2 linked regions of the Homo sapiens genome follow. The protein of the gene in region 2 purifies or fractionates together with the protein of the main gene of each other region. This does not show direct contact. Each region holds a gene or a part of one and is shown on either strand. Other genes may lie near its edges. The genes, in order: KLHL18 and CFH.

What was found.
Region 1: the proteins of CFH (region 2) and KLHL18 purify together in Homo sapiens (affinity purification with mass spectrometry; 2 studies listed by BioGRID and IntAct, with this or other methods). This does not show direct contact.

Annotation. Positions count from the first base shown.
Region 1 is NC_000003.12:47,324,902-47,336,602, reverse strand, and holds part of KLHL18 (kelch-like protein 18), read right to left. Parts: intron 6,653-11,701; coding exon 6,454-6,652; intron 3,447-6,453; coding exon 3,286-3,446; intron 1,921-3,285; coding exon 1,784-1,920; intron 84-1,783; coding exon of another isoform or gene 69-83; coding exon 1-68. UniProt on the Homo sapiens protein: Substrate-specific adapter of a BCR (BTB-CUL3-RBX1) E3 ubiquitin-protein ligase complex required for mitotic progression and cytokinesis.
Region 2 is NC_000001.11:196,645,349-196,657,084, reverse strand, and holds the start of CFH (complement factor H isoform a precursor), read right to left. Parts: upstream 5,043-11,736; 5' UTR 4,968-5,042; coding exon 4,910-4,967; intron 1-4,909. UniProt on the Homo sapiens protein: Glycoprotein that plays an essential role in maintaining a well-balanced immune response by modulating complement activation.

The sequences.
Region 1 (11,701 bases), on a different chromosome or scaffold from region 2:
CATGGGACGGCATCTCTCCCAGCAATTGGCAATGGGGTCGAACACTTCCACCACATTCAGGGAATCACCTGCATAAAAATTTGCTACTCAAATTAAAACAAATGAGACCACTTGTTTAGAGCACAGCTATTGGGCATTGATTATATGGAACATTCGACTCAATTCTATTAGCTCTTCCCACAGAATTACTCAAGGCACAAGGGCCCACTAAGAAATTTCAGCCATGATCACCTCAAACCTAATTCTTTAAGGAAAATCAGAATCAGACAGGAGGTATTTATTTTTTAGAGAGGGTAGTTTTCAGTTACAATCAGGTACTCCACCTGCTTAAAGCCAAAGGTATAGGTGAATCGATACAATATTTCCTCCAGGCAGGAGGCATGCCAGAGGGACGGGCATGCGCTCCAGTGCTTTCATTTGCTAGGGGGTGACCCAAGGCAAGGGGCTTTGTGTCCCCACCCTCTGCTTCACATGTGAAATGGAGATAATCTTTATGGATTAAATGATATAACAGGTAAAGCACCTAGCATGGTTCTAGAATAAACTTTGCGCTCAATAAATAGTCATAGTAGCAAGGAATGATCATTCCAGCCCTACCTTTTTCATCAGGTTTTTGTGATGATCAAACAAAATAACCCCCTCTTCCTGTGGTATGCTGCTATGGGGCACTTAGCATTTCATTTGCACGCCGCTCCAGCGTGCACTGAGTTGAGGATTTACCTGTTCCAGGCCCTCTGATTAACAAGCAGCAGCTAGTACCCAACTCTCATTAACCTTCAATTAAAAACAAAACTGGGCCAGGTGCGGTGGCTCACACCTGTAATCCCAGCACTTTGGGAGGCCAAGGTGGGCAGATCACTTGAGGTCAGGAACTCAAAACCAGCCTGGCCAACATGGTGAAACCCCATCTCTACTAAAAATAGAAAAATTAGCTGGGCGTGGTAGCATGAGCTTGTAGTCTCAGCTACTCAGGAGGCTAAGGCGGGAGAATTGCTTGAACCCGGGAGGCAGAGGTTGCAGTGAGCTGAGATTGCGCCACTGCACTCCAGCCTGAGTGACAAGAGTGACACTCCATCTCAAAAAAATTAAAAACAATAAAAAATAAAAACAAAACTGCCTGGGAGTGCCCACCAACTGCCCCCAAGTTGGGAGGCCATGCAGCTTTCTGAAAACCTTACTCTTAGATTCAAAAACTGCCAATAACCCACGGACTGTAAAGCATGTGTGTGTTTCACAGGGGGTGGGGCTGAAGAGTAAAAAGTATTATTGACAGTGGTAGACCCTGTGTATTTGGATAATCTTTCTCTTGGGGACTTTCTCAGTCTAACCCCAGAGATCCATATGACAAAATGTGAATAGCCTGGTATGGAACTGGGTCTCTGACTGTATCCTATCCGGGGCTGAAGGATGCTATACCATAGCCAATGTGATATTAGGGCAAAAGTGCTGGCTCAGGAATCAGAACACCCAAGTTCTAGTCCTTGCTCTGCCAAAAACAATTGTATGAACATAGTGAAAGTTCTGTGGGGCTCAATTTCCTCACTTGTCAGGTAAGAAGGCTAGGCCTCAAAGATTTCTAGAAGGTCTCTTTAGCACTGATATTCTGATTCAATGGCATGAATATGTGACATGCTCTAACTGTAGAGCAATTGTATAAAATCAAGAGGGGCAAGGGTGGTGACAGTACAAAACAGAGAAACCAGAAGGGCCAGGCTAATTTGTCTGGTGCTTCCTCATCCATGGAGTCCAAGAGGAGGGTCTATAAAGGGGAGCCGCAAGGTACCTGCTGAGTTGAGGCCCCCTACAGCGTAGATAAGTCCAGCGATGGATGTGCAGCAGCGTGGCCGGGTTCTGAAAGCTGGCAGGTGGGGCCGGCGCTCTGGCATGAGGTGGTAGTCCTTTGCTTCGTCTACCAGGTCCCTAGAATAAGGTGGAAGATGCTAGAACAGGAGGTATCCCCCTGACTTAGTCCTCGTTTGCATCTCTGAGCCTGGCTCTCCACTGCCAACTGCAGGGGAAACCTGGGAGGAGAAGCCTTCTGGAAGGTCTGGTCTCAAAGAAACCAGGTGAGTTCTGGGAAAATCATACATGGCTACTGAGATATACTCAAAATTAAAGGGGCAAGACAAGCAAAGACCACCTCAGCTAGTGTAGATTAGGCATGAGAAAAACAAGGTAGTGGCCAAAATGGCTGGACCTGGGAGTTTCGACAAGCAGCATGCACCCTGTTGCCACTCAGACCTAGCCCTTCCTTTCCATCCCTACGACTGCACCGTGGCTTGCAACCTGCAATTAATCACCACTCATCTCCACGGTGGCAGCTCCTGACACATTTCCCTGCCTCAGGCCTGCCCCTCCATTCCACTTCCACACTAGAGTTCAAGCTAAGAACCTTCAATAGCCACCCACTGCCGACAGAATAAAGTCCAAACTCCTCAACAGCACCCTTGAGACCGCTGGTCACTGGGCCCTAGCTACCTCCAGACACTACTCCACCCCATCCTGACACACACCTTCACACCATCTGCCATGGACAGGCACTTACTTCCTCCTGAACCAGCTGATCCCAACCAGGAGTTGGAAAATGAAAGAAAGCTGAATGTGTGTAAAGTTTTTATCAGCAAAGGAGAAAAAAATATTTCAGGGTTGTGAATTTGATAAGCAATCTGGAGGAGAATGAACATTTTTCTCTGCTGTTCTACTTTTACAGCAATCATCCTATAGGGCTGCCATCTTCTGAACTGTTTGGGTAACTCTGCTGTACCATGTTGTCATTGATTTGCTCTGGGTAAAAGTTTCATGTGTTGGTAAACATGTCTGCCCCTTGCCCATCATCGTAGATGTAAAGCCTACACCTGGCAGAGGCCCTCCATGCCCACAGCACTGACTAATATTTACTGAAGAGGGCAATGAGCCCCAGGAAGTCCCATTTGCGCCACTGAGTGAGCTGCTGGTGTGGACAGGGTCAGAGCAGGCAGTAAAGATGGTTGCACATTCATAAATAGCTCAGTGGGGAAAGATGCTGGAAAATCCTCAGATAACTCAGCAGGGGAAAGCCCTTTCTGCTTTGATGCTCCCACATGGCACATCTCTCTGCCCAAGGCATAAGATTCGGGCTCTTCACACTTCCTGTTCCAGCTTCTAGACAGAGGGCAGACCAATCTGTGTGCCATGAATTAGACTGATCACTCTAAATGCTTTCTTTCCAGAACTGGAACAGGTGGCCAACTCCTCTTCCCTGCTTAGACCTTTGGCAGTGTCCTGTGCAGGTCCACCCTCACTCACCTGCATTTGTGGCAGCAACGCACCAGGTCATCCTGCTGTACTCTGTCTGAAAGGAACTGGGGCCGACAGAGGGGCAGGCGGATATTGGACAGCAGCTCAGGCAGGTAGGGACCCCTCTGCTCCCGGTCGTATCTGACCCAGGCCAATGCAGCTTCAAAGACCTGTCATGAGAGTGGATGTTCTGGCAGCAAATCCTCCCACCCAGAGGCCACACCCCAGGCCTCCAATCTCAATGCCTCCACTTCCTATACTGAAGCAGTCCCTTGGGCCCATCAATCTTTTCTCCTACTTGTCTCTGAAATCCCTGATTTCTCTCTACTTCCTAGGCTACTAGAACAGCTTCCTGAATTTCATTATGATTATGATTTCCTAGTGAAAAATCATCAATGGCATCTTATTACTTTCTGTGAAAACAAAATGCCTGTTTCCCTTCCCGCTGCTCCTGTACCCCTGCTCCCTCTAAACTCCCTCCATCACCCTCTCTGTACTCCGGCAAGGCTGGGCTGGTTCTCCTGTTTACACTGTCCCCCCTCATCTAAAATGCCCTCATCTCCTCCTCTTCATCTAAACCCACTCCCCTATTTTTAAGGCCTGGCTCTAGATCCATGTTCTCCAAGGAGCCTTTCTTAATGGCTCCAACCACAAGGACCTCTCCCTCTAAAGCCCTACAGCCCTTATGAAATGTATCACTCAAAGAAATGTGAGCTGCCCCCCCGCCCCCCGTCATATTAATTAGTTTAAGAGCTAGGGACAGGACACCTAGTTTTTGGAATGAGGCTTTTTCCTCGAAACCACAGTGTCTATGCTGCCAAGCCCAGGATCCACTTTTCTCCCAGGCTCCTATCAAGCCCGCTTCACCTCTCTAGCATCCCCCTTTTCTAGAGGAAAGAGGAAAATAAATCATACCTTTTAATCCCTCCTCAAATTTCTTTTTTCTTTTCTTTCTTTCTTTCTTTTTTTTTGGAGATAGGGTCTTGCCCCATCGCCCAGGCTGGAGTGCAGTGGCGCAATCTCAGCTCACCTCAACCTCTGCCTCCCAGCTCAAGCAATCCTCCCACCTCAGCCCAAGTAGCTGGGATTACAGGCCAGGAGTTTAAGCTGGACCAGGCCTGGCTAACTTCTGTGCTTTTAGTAGAGATGGGGTTTTGCCATGTTGCCCAGGCTGGTCTCAAACTCCTGAGCTCAACAAATCTGCCCACCTTGGCCTCCCAAAGTGCTGGGATTACAGGCGTGAGCCACTGCTCCCGGCCTTCCTTAAGTTTCTAACCTTCGTCCCTCATCCTCACTCTCAGGTGAGAAAATAGAAAATCAGAAGAGAATTTCAGTAAGAATCTACCTGTCCCCCGTCCCTGGGCGTGTGCCCCAGCTCTCCCTCCTGCTACTGTGGATATGGATGGCTTGTGCTCCTATCAAAGATGCACACCCTTATGCCCTAGACTGTCCTCACTTATTCCAGAACATCATTCCAACAACTGCTCTCCCATTTCTCCAATATTATCAATTCTTCCCTCTCTTCTGGAAAACTCCCAACAGCAGTCAAATATGCTGTAATTTCTCTCACTTTAAAAAAAAAAAAAAAAGGTCGGGCCTGGCGCAGTGGCTCACGCCTGTAATCCCAGCACTTTGGGAGGCCGAGGTGGGCAGATCATCTGAGGTCAGGAGTTCGAGAACAGCCTGGCCAACATAGTGAAACCCCGTCTCTACTAAAAATACAAAAGTTAGCCAGGCATGATGGCGCACACCTGTAATCCCAGCTACTTGGGAAGCTGAGGCAGGAGAAATGCTTGAACCTGGGAGGCTGAGGCTGCAGTGAGCTGAGATTGTGCCATCGCACTCCAGCCTGGGTGACAGAGTGAGACTCTGTCTCACAAAAAAAAAAAAAAAAAAAAAAAGGCCTGGCATGATGGCTCATGCTTATAATCCCAGCACTTTGGGAGGCCAAGGTGAGAGGATCATGTGAGGCCAGAGTTCAAGACCAGCCTGGCCAACGTGGTGAAACCCCATCTCTACTAAAAATATAAAAATTAGCCAGGCATGGTAGCGGGCACCTGTAATCCCAGCTACTTGGGAGGCTGAAGCAGGAGAATTGCTTGAACCCGGGAGGCAGAGGTGCAGTGAGCTGAGATTGTTGCCACTGCACTCCAGCCTGCCTGGGCGTTGGAGCAAGATTCTTTCTCAAAAACAAACAAACAACAACCCCTCTTGATTTCACAGACCCCTCCCACAGCTGCCCCAATGTTCTGTTCTTCCTTAGAACAAGATTCTTTCAAAAAGTTATCTATACTAGGCCGGGCACAGTGGCTCACGCCTGTAAACCCAGCACTTTGGGAGGCCAAGATGGGCGGGTCACTTGAGGTCAGGAATTCGAGACCAGCCTCGCCAACATGGTGAAACCCCGTCTCTACTGAAAGTATAAAAATTAGCCTGGCATGGTGGTGCATGCCTGTAATCCCAGCTACTCAAGGAGGTTGATGCGGGAGAATTGCTTGAACCTGGGAGATGGAGGTTGCAGTGAGCCAAGATCGCACCACTGCACTCCAGCTTGGGTGACAGAATGAGACTCTGACTCAAAAAAACAACAAAAAAATTATCTATGCTTGCTGTTTCTGGTTCACAGGAGGATTATTTCTAATAGTAAATATTGGAAATAACCCAAACATGCAAGAATAAGGTGAGTAGGTTGACAAAAATCAACAGAATGCTATTTAGACACTAAAATGTATGGAGGCCAGGTGCGGTGGCTCACGCCTATAATCCCAGCACTTTGGGAGGCTGAACTCACTTAAGGACAGTAGTTCAAGACTAGCCTGGGCAACATGGTGAAACCCGGTCTCTACAAAAAATACAAAAACTAGCTGGGTGTGGTGGTATGTGCCTGTAGTTCCAGCTACTCGGGAGGCTGATGTGGGAGGATGAGGCTGCAGTAAGCTATGATCTTGCTACTGCACTCCAGCCTAGGTGACAGAGCAAGATATTATCTCAAAAAAATAAATAAAACATAGAAAGTTTTCATGAAAAATGCATGATACAGTAAAACAAGCCCAATAATATACAACAGCCACATACATGTCATGATCTTAACTTTGTAAAAAAATACATAAACAAAACAATGACTATAAAGAGCAGCATCTCATGTCACCTGCACAGACTGCTACTGGGCTCACATACCTGCTCCTCAGATTTGACATTCAGCTCATCCCGAGACACCAGCTCAAGCACGTCTTCCAAGGGCAGGGCCAGGAACTCTTCTGACATGGACACCTCCACAAAGTGCTGGTGGATGAAGCTGTTGGCAGCGTCGTACAGCACAGCACACATCATTGTCTCAGCAAACTGGCGCACACCCAGGCAGTTTTTTGGGTGAAGCCTTTGGCATAAGGAAAGAAAAAAAAAATTAGAGGAAGAAAGGATGTTATCTTTGATCATTCTCAGGCTGGTTCTGGGTAGAGCCACAGAATGAAAACAAATTCTTAACCTCAGCTTTGTTGGAAACTGTATTTCTCTGGGACTCAACTTCTAAAGGTATAAAATTAAGAAGAAAGATTATCCTCAAAGGTCCCTGCCTTTTGGGCCTGGTGCTCTGTGCGTCAGGTGGAATGAGCTCTCTGGGTAGTTCTGTAAAGTAACTGTCAGAAGGTGAGAAGTAACCATCACAGGAGTGCAGGCACTGAAAATCTGTTTGAGACGTTCCACCACTGAAATTCCTGGTTGAGTGTCCAGGGCATTATCTCAACTTTGGTCACAAGGAAGGCACTGAAGTCACAGAATTAGAGTTTAAAAAACACAGACAGGGCTGGACACGGTGGCTCACGCCTGTAATCCCAGCACTTTGGGAGGCTGAGGCAGGCAGATCACGAGGTCACGAGATCAAGACCATCCTGGCTGACACGGTGAAACCCCGTCTCTACTAAAAATACAAAAAATTAGCCGGGTGTGGTGGCGGGCGCCTGTAGTCCCAGCTACTTGGGAGGCTGAGGCAGGAGAATGCTGTGAACCCAGGAGGCGGAGCTTGCAGTGAGCCGAGACTGCGCCACTGCACTCCAGCCTGGGCGACAGAGCAAGACTCCGTCTCAAAACAAAAAACAAAAAACAAACAAAACAACAACAAAAAAAACACAACACGGACAGATGGCTTCTTTAGTATGGGAACTCTTATACTTGTCTTTTTTTTTCCTTTTTTTTCTTTTTTGAGACAGGGTCTCACTTTGTCCCCCAGGCTGGAGTGCAGTAGCGTGAACACGGCTCACATCACCCTTGACTTCCTGGGCTCAAGCGATCCTCCTGCCTCAGCCCTGCAAGTAGCTGGGACTACAGGTGCCACCATGCCTGGCTAATTTTTGTACTTTTTGTGGTAGAGACAGGGATTCACCATGTTGTCCAGGCAGGTTTGAACTCCTGAACTCCAGCAACCCACCTGCCTCGGCCTCCCAAAATGCTGAGATTTTTTCTTGTTTTAGATAGAAAGAGACTCCACGGGCCTAATTGTTCAGACAAGCAGAAACAACAGCAGCAGCTATCATTTATTTACCATCAGTGAGTCAAGTGTTTTGCTAGGCCTTTTATACACATTCTCCAGAATCTTCTTAACCTGTAAAGTAGTAACGCACTCACAGATGGAAAACAGGCTCAGGGAAACCAAAAATGGTGCTCACAGTCCCTTGAGATAAGCAAGTGGTGGTGCTGAGATTGAAATCAGGACTCTTGTGCACATTCCCACGGTAGCCTGGCAGACTTACACTCATCAGGGCTAGAGAAACCCAGGATAAATCCTGGCCCTGATGCTCATGGGGCAACTTGGGTGGGTTATGTTCTTCCAAGTGTCAGTAATTTGCTCACCTGAAAGAAGATGATGACAACAGCTACCCACCTCTTAGGGCTGAGCCATGATACATGGTACCTGGTATGAAGTTAATGGCTGTCTTAATTTTTTATTATGGTTGTTTTTGTTTTTTGAGACAAGGTCTTATTCTGTCACCTAGGCTGTAGTGTAGTGGTGCAATTATGGCTCATGATAGCCTTGACCTCTTGAGCTCAAGTGATCCTCCTACCTCAACCTGCCAAGTAGCTGAAACCACACACCTAGCTAATTAAAAAAAAAAAAAAAAAGTGTTTTTTGGTAGAGAAAGCATCTCCCTATGTTGCCCAGACTGGTCTCAAACTCCTAGGCTCGAGCAATCCTCCTGCCTTGGCCTCCCAAAGTGCTGGGATTACAGGCATGAGCCACTGTGCCCAGCTTGTTTTTCTTACTACTGTTGCATCTAAGAAAATTCCAAACGAGCCCAGTGCGATTCTAAAATCTTGGTGACAGCAGCAGACCCTGGGGGATTCTTATTTGGCTCCATGACTGATTCTCTGTAGGGATGGTATTGATCAGATTAAAAATTGGCCGGGCATGCTTTTCTTCATTAGAAAGGTTTATGTCTTTTCCCCGACGTTAAGGTTTTAGGCACAGGGTTATATTTATTTAGCAATATTCACTATTGTCCCCTAGCAGTTGACCCATCAAGGACTGAATGAATGGGCAAGGTACCTTGGAGCCTGGCTTTATGACTAGTCAAAATTCTACATAGTTATTTCATTCCAGCCTGAGCTTGCTCTGTCCATTGCTTTGGAAACTGATGTGAATTTAGAAGAGCACAGAAACATAAGCAGAGAGCAAGATGTAGGCAAAGTTCATGGCCACTGAGGAATACAGCGCTGAAGGTCAGAATGTCAGCTCAGTCATCTGTCAAATGCCTTTCTCCTAAAGCACTTATAGTGATTGAATGAGACTTGTTAAAGCACTTTACAAATATAAGGCAGATATAAAGATAAACCTTCCCTGGGCCTCTACAGCATGTGCTTCACTATTTCCTAACACTTTGACATCAACCTGAGAGGAGGATTCAAAATGCCACGGGGCAGAAGCTGGATCAAGTCCAAGGATATGGGAGCCAATGATCAACGTAGCCATTGGCATTCATTTCCAAACTCTCCTTCTCAGGTTAGGATTCTCGTACCTTATTTTTGGGTGTCTTTGATTAGCTTGGCATAATACTGAGCACAAAACACACCTTTTTTTTTCCCTTTTGTTTTTTTTGAGACGGAGTCTCCTGGTGTTGCCGAGGCTAGAGTGCAGCGGCATGATCTCAGCTCACTGCAACCTCTGCCTCCTGGGTTCAAGTGATTCTCCTGGCTCAGCCTCCCAAGTAGCTGGGATTACAGGCGTGCGCCACCACGGCCGGCTCATTTTTGTATTTTTAGTAGAGATGGCATTTCACCATGTTGGCCAGGCTGGTCTCCAACTACTGACCTCAGGCGATCTGCCTGCCTCGGCCTCCAAAAGTGCCAGGATAACAAGCGTGAGCCACCACGCCCGGCCAAAACACACCTTCCTTTTTTTTTTTCTTTTTTTTTGAGATGTAGCTTCGCTCTTGTTGCCCAGGCTGGAGTGCAATGGCACGATCTCGGCTCACCGCAACCTCCACTTCCCAGGTTCAAGCGATTCTCCTGCCTCACCCTCCCGAGTAGCTGGGATTACAGGTGCCTGCAACCATAGCCAGCTAAGTTTTTTGTATTTTTAGTAGAGATGGGGTTTCACTATGTTGGCCAGGCTGGTCTCGAACTCCCGACCTCAGGTGATCCACCCTGCCTCGGCCTCCCAGAGTGTTGGGATTACAGGCGTGAGTCAACGTACCCAGCCAAAACACACCTTCTTAACTGAACTGGGCTTTTACATCCAAGAGGATGGGGGACGTGGGGAGCCTGTTTGTGAGGCAATTAGTGGGGGAAAAGGAAGGAGAGCGGCCACACAGGAAAGGGGCCCATGCAAGAGGAGGAGGGAGATATGAGGGAAAATAAACCTACAGCTACAGGGTTGATGGAGACCCACGTCTTTCATTAGCCACATCACAACCTTCTTCCTTGCTGACACAGCTTGACTTTGGAAGCAAGAAGACAGCATAAGACATAATGCTTTATCAGAGGCAGGAAGCGGTGACTTGAATTAAACAGGTTACTGACGTGGTTCATTGACGCATTTGGTGTACCAATCTACCTCTGAGAGAATTTCAGAAAATACACAGCTCCAAGGCTGGGTGTGGTGACTCACACCTGTAATCTCAGCACTTTGGGAGGCCGAGGTGGGCAGATCACTTGAGGTCAGGAGATCAAGACCAGCCTGGCCAACATGGTGAAACCCCATCTCTACTAAAAATACAAAAATTAGCTGGGTGTGGTGGCACACGCCTGTAGCCCCAGCTGCTCCGGAGGCTGAGGCAGGAGAATCGCTTGAACCTGGGAGGTGGTGGTTGCAGTGAGCTGAGATCATGCCACTGCATTCCTGCCTGGGCGACAGAGCAAGACTCTGTCTCAAAAATAAATAAATAAATAAAAATACAAAAATTAGCCGGGCATGGTGGCAGGCACCTGTAATCCTGCTACTCCGGAGGCTGAGGCAGGAGAATGCTTGAGCTCGGGAGGCAGAGGTGGCAGTGAGCCGAGATCACGAAACTGCACTCCAGCCTGGGTGACAGAGTGAGACTCCATCTCAAAAAAAAAAAAAAGCAAGAAAATACACAGCTCCAGTGCTTGCCTAAAAGCAAGGAGGCCCATACATTTGAAGGCCGGAAATAGGGCCACCAGAAAAAGTCAACCCCAGCCTCAGGGGGAAAAAAAGCAGCGGGCTGAAGATGTAATAGACTGAGCAGCCTCAGGAACTGTGGCTTTAAGAACTCTGATGGCATTGTGGCTTCTCTGTGCTGTCACATATCTTTTCCACTGGTGCTCAGAATGGTTTTCCTCAAGTCGCTGGCAATCAAATCTTGAAAATGATGCACCCTCGGCTGGGCGTGGTGGCTCACGCCTGTAATCCCAGCACTTTGGGAGGCTGAGGCGGGCGGATCACAAGGTCAGGAGATCGAGACCATCCTGGCTAACATGGTGAAACCCCGTCTCTACTAAAAGTACAAAAAATTAGCCAGGCGTGGTGGCAGGCGCCTGTAGTCCCAGCTACTTGGGAGGCTGAGGCGAGAGAATGGCGTGAACACAGGAGGCGGAGCTTGCAGTGAGCCAAGATCGCGCCACTGCACTCCAGCCTGGGCAACAAGAGTGACACTCTGTCTCACAGAGCAAGGCTCCGCCTTAAAAAAAAAAAGAAAAAAAAGAAAATGATGCACCTTCAAGGGCACATACGAAGTGGGGAGCTGGGAGACACCATCACATTCTGTAGCGAGGCTCAGGGAGAATCATTCCAAGGAACAGAGACAATAATAGGAACTACTGGTGAGAAAACAGAAAGCAGGCCATGGCTCTGGAGTCTGTGGCAGGAAACAGGAGAGGTATAGGTTTAGGTCTCAGAAAGGGTCCTGAAGGGCTGAATGAAAAAATGTCAAAGATAGGCTCAAAACATCAGGTTTATGCGTAAGTACTTATTCCT
Region 2 (11,736 bases):
AGGTGTTGGAAGCTGCAGTGAACTATGATCGCACCACTGCACTCCAGCGTGGGCACTCCAGCCTCAGGCAACAAAGCGAGATCCTGTCTCAAAACAAACAAACAAACAAACAAACAACTTAACAGTGAAAAGAGCAAGAAGAAAATTCCAGAACCATAAAAAGCAGATAGGAGAATAGACGATAGTCACATGAAGTTGGATAGAATAACAAGTATGTCATAATTAGAGATAAAACAAGATACTATCAGAACATGGGTTGAAATTCCACAACTTTCTTGAAATGTGTATTTGAATAGCTAATTTCTAATGCCAGTTATTGTTCCAGTCACAAAAAACGAACTCAGCCACAAAGAGACAGTACAATTAGGACCCTGAAAATAGAGAAAAAAAAAAAAAAACGCAACACACATTGTACCAAGTATTACTAAGTAGTACTTGTGGAAGTTAAAGTGATGGAAAAATGAATGAGCGAAAGAACAGATGAGTAACAATGAAACTATCTGGAAGCCTTTCCATTATATCTGTAGATTATGGACAGCCTGTGGAAAAAGCGTAGTAGACAGTAGTGACTAGAAAATATAAGAGAAGACAAGGTGATAACTGTTTAGTGCACTTAAAACTCTGTTGCAAGAACCCAGGAAACTCTAACATTTGTAATTCCATTGTACATCTGACCTATGTGTCCTAAGCTTAAATTTATGTTACAGTTCAGGAGTTTCTGAAAGAATATTGCTTTTTCCTTTTCTTTCTTTCTTTCTTTCTTTTTTTTTTTTTTCTTTTTGAGATGGAATCTCCCTCTGTCGCCCAAGCTGAAGGGCAATGGCATGATCTCAGCTCACTGCAACCTCCGCCTCCCTGATTCAAGCAATTCTCCTGCCTCAGCCTCCTGAGTAGCTGAGATTACAGGCACGCGCCACCACGCCTGGCTAATTTTTGTATTTTTAGTAGAGATGGGGTTTCACCATTTTGGTCAGGCTGGTCTCGAACTCCTGACATGGTGATCCACCCACCTGGGCCTCCCAAAGTGTTGGGATTACAGGTGTGAGCCACCATGCCCGGCCTGGAAGAATAATCACTTTTCTATCTATTACATTTCCAGTTAACAAGGTTTATGAAAAACTTGGCTAAGTTAAAATGTCAGAAGAAATAAAAGTGTTCTGTCAAATGTTTTTTCTTTCCTTTTTATTGTTTCATTTTTTGATGTTCAGTTACTTTATTTCCTCTGAGCTATCTTTTTATGACTCCTTATAATTTTAAGCTAAAATGCAATACTTTTTTGTCAATTACATCATCCCCTTTCCATGTACTATGGTTTTGTGAAGAAATGGGTAAAGTACACGTTAGTTAACTGAGCACGGGATAGATTGGGTGGCAGAATCTCAAAGGCCTAGGCAGGTGGGGGATGGTGTGTGTGGGGAGGAGGAGAAGGCATAACTGGGAAGAATGAAAAGTGGCAAAAGACTGCAGAATAAACAATCGAGGATTAAGCAAATAAAAGTGGGTCAATGTAGACTGGCTCAGATCTTAGAAACCAAAGGCCACACATGAAGAACATTTACCAATCTGCTTTTGAACTTATATTTGGGAACTTACTTCTACCTAAGAATAATTTTAGTTAGCAATACTTAGATATTTCATTTTTAGTTTAAATTATATGTAGGCAAAAGAGTAGCATATGCATTCCCAGGATATGCCTAAATTTAAAATAAGCAAAGCTTGCCTTGGCAGACGTCTCAGGCTCGTGCCATTTCTGTGGGCATTTTCTCTACCCCTTCTCTTATAGCACTCACTATAGCACTTCAACCAGCAGATCTGTCCTACCTGGGAAAACCCCATCTTCCAGAATCACTTTGTTCTATTCTTATCCTCATCAACATCCATTTCTACCCTCCCCCGCCCACTGAAATTGTTTCAGGGAAGTTGTCAGATGATAATAATTCAAAGTAAATTATGAATAATACTAAATTTAACTATCCTAAAATATGTATTCAGTGTATTTGTCATTCCATGTAAATGACAGATTGGTTGAAATTATAGTAATATTAATATCAACACGTAAAGTATTTTAGGAGGAGATGAGATATTGAAGCCAATTGGGCCATCGCACAATTTAAATCACACCATATAGATAAATACACATACTACTATCTCTGAAAATATGGGGGTTTGGGGGAGCAAAGGGGAATTCTTATTTATCACACTGAAATTCAAACATACAATTTAGGATTTTAGACCACTATTCTCCTTTCTCTGACTGTAATGGAATCCATCAATCTCTGATCTATAAAGTCTTCTGGGACCTGAAATAACGTTTCTGCACTCTAAATCTCCAGGATTAAAAAACATGTCTCCCAAACAACACAGCCAGTATTTACTTGAACATGTTTCAGTAGAGTTTTAATTTATTCACTTTAATCATCTTGGAATTTCTGGGCTGTGGCCTAATTTCATATAGTACACAATTGTTAGACCCTAAATCTAAAAAATCTGCTTGGTCATAATATATTCAAAACCTTGGTCATACTATATTTCAAAAAGGTGAAATTAGGTGGTACGATTGAGAAACTGTTATTTTAAACTTTGTCCTGTAAATCTGACCCAATTCTTAGTAGCCTGCAGTGACCCCCTGAGCCAGACTGTTAAAACAAGGAGGCAATTAACGTTCCTACACAATTGGAAATGTTATTGTAGACAATATATTGCATTAGAAAGGTTCTATGTAGTACCCAATATATTAAAAAAAGAAAACAAATAGAAAGCTGAAATTACAAATTATTCCTGCTGGCTATAATTCTTTCTTAGTAATGAATAGTGTTTTTTTTGAAGAAAGTTCACTCTTAACAGAGCAGAAGTAATGCTAAAATGTTATGCTGTTGAATAAAGCAGATTGTGATAGTATTCAAACTATCTTCTCAATTTGGTATTCAGTATTCAATGTGGAAAATATAAACAGAAGCAAATATTGAAATATATGTGAGTATTTTTCATGATCAAAGCTACTCTGTTAAGTAAAAATTTTTTAGATATGGTAGATTAATAGAACTGATGGACATCTCGAACTAGTTTAGTTTCAGAGAGTATTTGGGAAACAAGGAATAAATTAGGAGTCTGATATCCACTGAAAATTCATGTAGTTTTTCTCCATTGGCTTTTGCATTACATGTGCTTTTATGAAAATTATGAGGCTGGCCTAAGCATTGCTTTAAATACAAAGTTGTGCTTTATCTTTTAGGAAATAATCAGATTTATATCATTTTCACCATAACATATATAGTGCCGATGTTCAATTCACCAGTAGAAACTGATACCACATTTAAACACACATTGATGAAAAATAAAATAAAAGTGAAACAAGTCAGCAATAATCAATTATGTAAATAAGATGTTTAAATCACTATTGTTTAATTATCACATATACTTTGATGTACTCTATTTTAATAATATTTCAAATTCAACTTTTTAATAACTTAAACTGTTTATTAAACTTGCCATTGATTCTTGATTTTAAAGATTAGAAATAAAACAAATCTCCCTTATATGACAAATGGTATCTATGTAAAACTGGAGCAAACAGTATGTAGGTATGAAACGTTAGAAACATTCCCATAAATTTAGTAAGAAAAGACAGAAATATTTACACAAAGAAACAGAAAAAGATGTCTTTTACAATAGGTAATATTGACATTGTTCTGGAACTGTTTGTAAATACAAAAAGGTTTCATTTTAAAATACTAATTATAATATTTATATGTACAAGGAAATAATTGTTTTCTTCATTTAAAAAGTGGCTACATATAAAGTTTACAAGCCAAAGAACAAGCAATAACATTAGAAAATATAACTGAAAATAATTCAACCTTTCAAAAGGTATTAAACATATTTGAATATTTTTTAAATTACCAAAGTGTATAACTATAAGAATATATCTGCTTTTATTTTCTAGATTGGAAGACTGAAACAGAGATTTGTATTATTTGCTAATATTCTTCAGTTCCTAGAGGCTATGTAATGGTCACTCAATCAAAATTTCTTTACTAAGTGAAAAGATTTTAGAAATTATGAATAATATGTAATTCATTCAGTTTAAAAATGTTTACCAAATATCTATCACATAACTGGTTACCTATCAAAAACTAGGAAAGCAAACCTCCTCCAAGAATAAGCTTTTTAATCTATCAAGAAGCAGTGATATAATTAAATTTTATTATGAATCCAGAAATTGTCTTACTGAGGTCAGAAAAAAACTCCTACATTCATATTCACTACTCCAAAAGACTGCTCTTCAAGAATATATGTTATATACAACTACAGGAAAAAAATCTCTATTGAACAACTTAACTGTTACAAATATTGTATATTCAATTGGGTTTCAAATTTATATAATATTTTTATTCTGATAATACAAGTAATACTTGTCTACAAGAATTCTAAGGTCATGACAATATCAGTTGTAAATGATAAATGAATTTTTATTTAGGAAGAGTTAAAATCATATTTGAAATAAATCTAATCATTATGATTTGATGGCTTTTATTGACTATGTATATTCACATCCTTCTTAATGCTTTCACATAATACATTTTGGTTATACTCCTAAGCAAAAAAGTAAATTACATTTTATGATAATTACAAGGGAAATGATTATTCCAGATCATAGTTTTTCAGAAATGTTTATTAAAACATTTTATTCTATTTTATATTAAATATAATTATGATGAATATTTAGATATACCATTCAAATAAGGTTCTTACATTTTTTAAACTCAACAATGTCAAAAGCCACTCAATTGTCAAGTTACAGAATACTTAAGCACATTTTCTAAATCAAATTTTTATTACTCCTGTGAAAAGCATCATTAGCAAATGTTTCATAATACAGTTTTCAGAAAAGAGTCTCTTTTAATCTTACCTTCTGCTACACAAATAGCCCATAACATAAGGCAAATAATCTTTGCTAGAAGTCTCATTTTTTGGATCTTTTAAGAGGACATTTACCAGCTAACTCTGTTCACAACGTCCAGTTCTCCTCTTCCAAGAATTGTGATTAGTGCAGGAAAGAACTTGCTGCAAAAGGAAGTTGAAACTAGATGCTCCGCCTATCAGAAACTTTTGCAAAGTAAATAAAAAATCAACCACAAGCCACAAGCCCAGAAATGCCAGAAGTTAAACCCAATTCTCACTGCACTCCCACTAAATGTTAATGCTGTGACCGGCTCTTGGACTTTTTCTTATTAAGCTAGGGAAATTCTCCGTTGGAAAATGTTCATGTTCTTGGTATGTGCAAATCAGCAGCTGGTGATATCCTCTGGATTTCATAAACCCTTCAATTATTCAAACTCTATTCGGGTCTATTGTGTATAAACCTCAGAACAGGAAATAAGAGAAACTTTAAAAGAAATCACATACAAAACTTTGGTTTAGGCAATGTTTTCACAATCAGCACCCAGACAATGTGTACAAACTTTGCCAAGAATGCAGTGCTTGATGAATTTGGGGGTCTGCTTTTCTAGCAATTTATGAAATTAGTTTTCTAAATACTTTTTGTATATGTGTATGAAGCAACTGGCTCACTCTCATTTGACGTAAATAGGTTTAATAATCCAAAAATCAACAAATTGAAATGCTGATTTTTAAAACTTTGTATTGTAGTGTAATATGTATAAGGAAAACATAAATCATATGCTGGATATTGAGAAGGTAAAGATACCTGTGAAACCACCACCAAGGTCAAAACACTGAACATTATTACATCCCAGAAAACCCCAGTACTCCTTTTCAGTCAATACGCCTCTCAACCCTCTCCCACACCCCCCACACACAGAGACCACGATTCTGATCTTCAAGAACATGGAATATATTTGTCTGGCTTTTGTACTTTGTATAATGAAAAAGAAGCAGTTTATTCTTATGTTTAGAGTTTTTCACCAAAAATTGTGTTTGGACCATTCAAACACATTGTTAGATGTAGTTACAGATAGTTCATTCTTATTGCGATTTAATACTCCACTTTTTGAATAGTTCACATTTTATTTATCTGTGTGCCTGTTAGTGAGCATTTGAGCAGATTTTAGTTTGGAGCTGGTATGAATAGTGCTGCTATGGGCCTTATATTATGAGGTTTTTGGTAAACACAATCCACATTTCTGGTAAGTGCATACTTGGTAGTGAAACACTGGGACATAATTTATGTTTAGGTGTAATGGATAAAATTAGACAATTTTCCAAATGGATTATAACACTTGACATCACTTGACATTTCTATCAGCAGTGTCCAAGTTGCTCCATACCCTCAGAGATACTTGGTAATTTTAATCCTTGTAATTTTAGCTTTTCTGGTAACACAAAGCAATAATTCTCCGTGGTTATAATATGAATTTTCCTGATGACTAATTGAAATGTGAGAGATCCCTGATTCCCCTTGAAGGACATGCAACAGGTGTGCGGCTTGCCAGTTAGGTCGCCCTGCAGCTCAAACCCCTTACGGGGAGGGGGAGCACACAGATGCACCGGTGCGGGAACCGGAGTGAGCGCTTTCGGGCTCTGGCCTCACAGCAGCATCTAGGGGTGGGTGTCTGCGATTTCCGAAGCCCAAGTGGGCGTATGTTACAGTGTGCTCCTTTAGCTTTGCCATCTGCAAATGGTTTATGTGTTAATCAGCTCAACAAACCCTCTTCCTTATCTCATGGGTAGTGGGACAGTGAAATAGCCCTCTATATCCCCAGCTGTTGCCCAGTGTCCCAAAAGAATCGGATCACACGGGGGCTCGAGGGATGAGGGCAACTTTTTATTGAGTGGTGGAGGTGGCTGTCAGCAAGATGGAGTGGGAAGGTGACCTTCGCCCAGTGTCAGGCCTCCCAGTGGCCAGACTCTTCTCCACCCGTCCCTGGCCAAACTCCCCTCGGAGTCCAGATGTCCCTCCTCTCTTTCTCTGCTGTGTCATTCTGCCATCGCAGGCCTGTTTGTCGGCTTGCCTCTCCGTCTCCTCACTTGTAGGTCTCTTCTGGAGCTTGGAGTTTGGGATTTATATGGGGGTACGACAGCGGGGCATGGCGGGCCAAAAGGCAACTTTTTGGGTGTGAAACCTGAAATGCCTGTCCTCATTTAGGGCCACAGGTCTTCAGGCTTGAGGGTGGGGCCTTTGCTTGGGGACCACCCTCTTCTACCCAGTATTTCCCTGTCTCCTGCCCTTAACATGAAGTTGAGAAACTTTCCTGTGGTAACTGGTCATTTAGATACCCTCTTTGGTAAAGGTTCTATTCAAATCCTTTGCATATTTTTTTCTTATTGAGTTGTTTGTCTTTGACTTATTGGAGTGTAGGAACTGTTTATATATAATTACTTATATATTCTAGATATGAAAATAATCTTATTAATATGTATTATAAATACCTTCTTCCAGTCTGTGGGTTTTCTTTCTATTCAGTATTACATGTCTTTTATAATAATAAAAAGAATTCCTTAATTTTAAAATAGAGCAAATTTTCAATTTTTTTCTATGACTAGTGCATTATGTGTCCTATTTAATGAAAGCTTGCCTAGTCCTAGAACACAATGCTTTTCTTCTAAAAGAATTATTTTATCTTTCACATTTAAGACCTTTAGAACAACTGTAATTGTCTTTTGTGTATAGCATAATAAAAAGCTCCAGATGCATTTTTAAAATAGAGATATCCAATTGTTATAGCATTATTCAACGAAAGTATCATTCTTTCCTCTGTACTGACATGCTTTCACCTTTGTCATAAGTCAGGTGCTGGATATGTGTGGGTCTATATCACCAAGCTCTTCTTACTGTAATAGTTTATTTTTAAAACTTTTCTAAAGTGTAAATTTCTGGGAACTTTGGCTTTCTAGTTATCTTTTAAATTGATTTCTTTTTTAATTTCATATTCTAAATAATTACACTGTTTTAAAATTTGATGAGTCTTTCTTTATGGCCCATTATAGTCAAAATTCTACCTATGTCAGTAGGTCAAGTTTGTAATTTGTTAAAATCTTTTGTATTTTTATTATGTTTTTGTCTGATTATTCCATCAGATATTGAAAGGGTGTATTACATCTCCCATTATAAATGTGGATTTGTGTATTTCCCTGTTTAATGCTGTGAATCTTTATATATTTTAGGGCTATGATGATGCTTGCATACGTATTTAGAATTGTGATATCCTTCTTTTGCATTGGTCATTTTCTCATATTAAATGGCCCACCCTAACTCTAATTTTGCTTCCAATGTGAATTTTACATTTTATTTTATTTTTATTTTTATTTTTGTAATAAAAATATAAGGAATAAGAGTTAGACTTAGTCATTTGTTCTGAGAAAAATAAGAAATAAAATAGCATGGATATATGAATAATCAAGCAAATTCGAATTCTGAACTATCATTCTGAAGTTTAATTTGATTTAACTGATAACACATATGTTGACATACTAGATCATTTAAACTTCTTCTTTATTCCTTCCTTAGTTTTATCTGTTTGAGTATGAATCCAAACATTTTACCTGGGGCTTAAATTTCCAATAGTGGTTTCTATTCTAATAGCAATATTATCACTTGGAGAGTATTCCAGAAACTTACTAAGATTAATATTATTGAGTGTTAATTATATACCAGGCACAGATCTAAGCACATTTATTCAATACTTAATGCAACACAATGAAATGGGAGACTATTACTCTTTCAAAGGTATAGATGACTGAACTGAACCACAGAACATTTTAGCAACTCCCTTAAGGTCACAAGACATTGCTGGAGCCAGGTATCAAATCCAGTGGTCTGTGTTTAAAATATGTGTTTAAAAATATAGTAAAATATTCACATATGTACTCTAGTGTATGCTTCACATTTATTTATTTTACAATTATGCATATACTGTAAAAGTATTGAAGGTACACACACACATATATATGTTTGTGGATAATTTAAAGTACATACAGGAATGATTTTGCTATACAAATCTTCACCTAATTTGCAATTGTTGAATGTAAAATGCCACTCTACTATCCAAGTAGAAATAATCCTCTTGAATTAATTTCAACAAATATCTTTCAGATGTATTATTTTTACTATTTTTTCTTTATCCTACCTTTTTTCAAAGACTGATGGCTAACGTCAATTGAGTGTTTTTGTTTCCCTTTTTTCATCAATACTTTTCAAAACTACAAAAGTCTATTATAAAGAAATTCAGAACATAAGAAAATTAGCAACATATTATGCCTTAAACTCATAAAATTATTATGTAGTATTAGATTACCATTAGAAAGACCAGATAGTAAATAGTTAACTATTAATACTAAGATTAAACATGAAATGGATCCAATTTATTTTCAATATTCATGTTGGCACATTCTCAGCAAATACATACTATGTATATTTGGACATTAAAAATTTAGAAGAGTAAGGATATAAATTTGTATTAGAGAAAAATCCATATTTAAAAAATTAGAAATAGTTAATATCTATGCTAAGTAACAAATGACTGTTATGATTAAAATTTTCGAAGGAAGTTTACAAGAAAGAGAAATTACTGAACACTGGTTTTGATCAGGGATGATTTTAAGAACACTTGGATATTACACTGTAGTTTAAGGGAAGAGTACCACTGAGACTGTGAAGAATAGGAAAGTGTGGGGACTAATCTAGAATTAATGAGAAGACTCACATTGGAGCAGTGGTTTTGCACAAGGAAATTGTGGAAGAAGTAAAAGGAGCTTTAAATGAGGAATGGTTTGAATTCCAGATCAAAAACTTGCAAATTATTTTACAGGCAATAAAGAATCTTTGATAGATCTAATTGAGGAAGAAATGTAAGTCATGCATTATTTAAGTAATGGTGCTTTGGCGGTTGTATTAAAATAGATGGAGGAAAAAGGACTCAGAGAAATGACAAATTAAATAAATTACTGAATGAATTCATAATACAACTATTACACAGCATCTCAATGTAAAGAAAAAGGGTAAAAACTAATATTTATAACAGAGCTTGATTTTTCTATGAAGCTAATGAAGTCTAAGCTTCAGGGCTCCTAATTTGAACAGACACCATCAAGGACCTGAGCTGGCCCTTAATAACGTTTCTGCATGGTCATCTATTTTTGTAAAAAATTGAAGAGAATTAATCTCTTAATTGCAAGAGAATGAACGGCTGTCTCTCTTATTCTATGCTGATTTCCCCTTCATTGCATTTCCACTGATTCAGTTGACATTACAGTTTCAGGCATTTGAAGGATGCAAGAAAAAGTTACACATAGAATGCTATTAGTTTGAGATTTATGTGGTATATTTTACAGTCTCAATTAAATATAATTTGATAACTGATGGTCCTCCAAGTGTAAGAATGGCTTCCAGGAATACTCCTACCACCCCTGTGCCAAATCAATTTGCATCATAACACAAAACTTCAGTGTCTGAAGACAGCACATATGAATATGCCCGACACCAGAAGTCTATGTGTAGTGAAGGAGAAACAAGATTAAAAAGTATAAAGACTATGATCAGCTGTGTAAAATTTTAAGTGGATGATTCCATTCTCATTGATTCTTCTCCTAGTAAAAATGAAAACTTGCTCAAGTCATTCACAATATATTGGCATCAATAACAATACCATAAAATTTACAACGCACCTTTGAAATGAAGACATTGAGGTCAAACTAGTTTTCAATGTTTCAATTTAAAGAACATTTAATATTAATTATATCATTAGAACTCTTTTAATGTCCTGAAACCTTGGAGCTTATTATGTCAGGGAAATCTGACAGGATTTTTTCCGAAATTTGATGACAATCTTAAAAATGTTTAGACATAAGTGGTGAACTTGAAATGACTTCAAATATTTCCACATAACAAGAAACAAATTTAAATCAAACATACTAAAAGAAAGACTGAATTATTTTTTCTATTTTATGTACACTGAAAATATTATAAAATGGTGTCATATGAAGGAAAAGTCAAAAAAGTATTCAACAAAAACGTAGAAATTCAAGGTAACAAAGACTTTATCACACAATGACTATACCTACTATATTTTGTGTTTCTATGATATTTCATTGTGGTTTTAATTTGCATTTCCCTAATAGTTATTGATGTTGAGTATTTTTTTCATGAACCTGCTAGTTATTTGTATGTTTTCTTTTGAGAAATGTCTGATCAGTTCCTTTGCCCATTTTTAAATTATGTTATTTGTTTTCTTGCTATTGAGTTGTTTAGAGTTCCTTATATATTTTGGACATTAACTCCTTATCAAGTGTATGGTTTACAAATGTTTTCTCCCATTCCATAGGCTTTCTCTTCATTCTGTTATTTGTTTCCATAGCTGTACAGAAGCTCTTTAGTTTGATGAAATCCCATTTGTCTATTTTCACTTTTGTTGCCTGTGCTTTCAGAGACACTAAAAAAATAAAAATAAAAATAAATTGCAATATTGTGGAGATTTTAACTCATTTCTTCTAGTAATTTTACAGTTTTTTGTCTTTAATCCATTTTGAGTTGATTTTTGTATCTAGTGTAAGATAAAGATCCAATTTAATCCTTCTGCATACAGATACCCAATTTTCCCAATACAATTTGTTGATGAGTCTGTCCTTTCTTCATTGTGTGTTCTTGGCACCTTTATTGAAAATCAATTGGCCGTAAATGCATGGGTTTATTTCTGGGCTTTCTATCTTGTTTCGTTGATAAATATGTTTGTTTCTATGCCAGCACCATGTTGTTTTGATTACAATAGTTTTATAATAAAT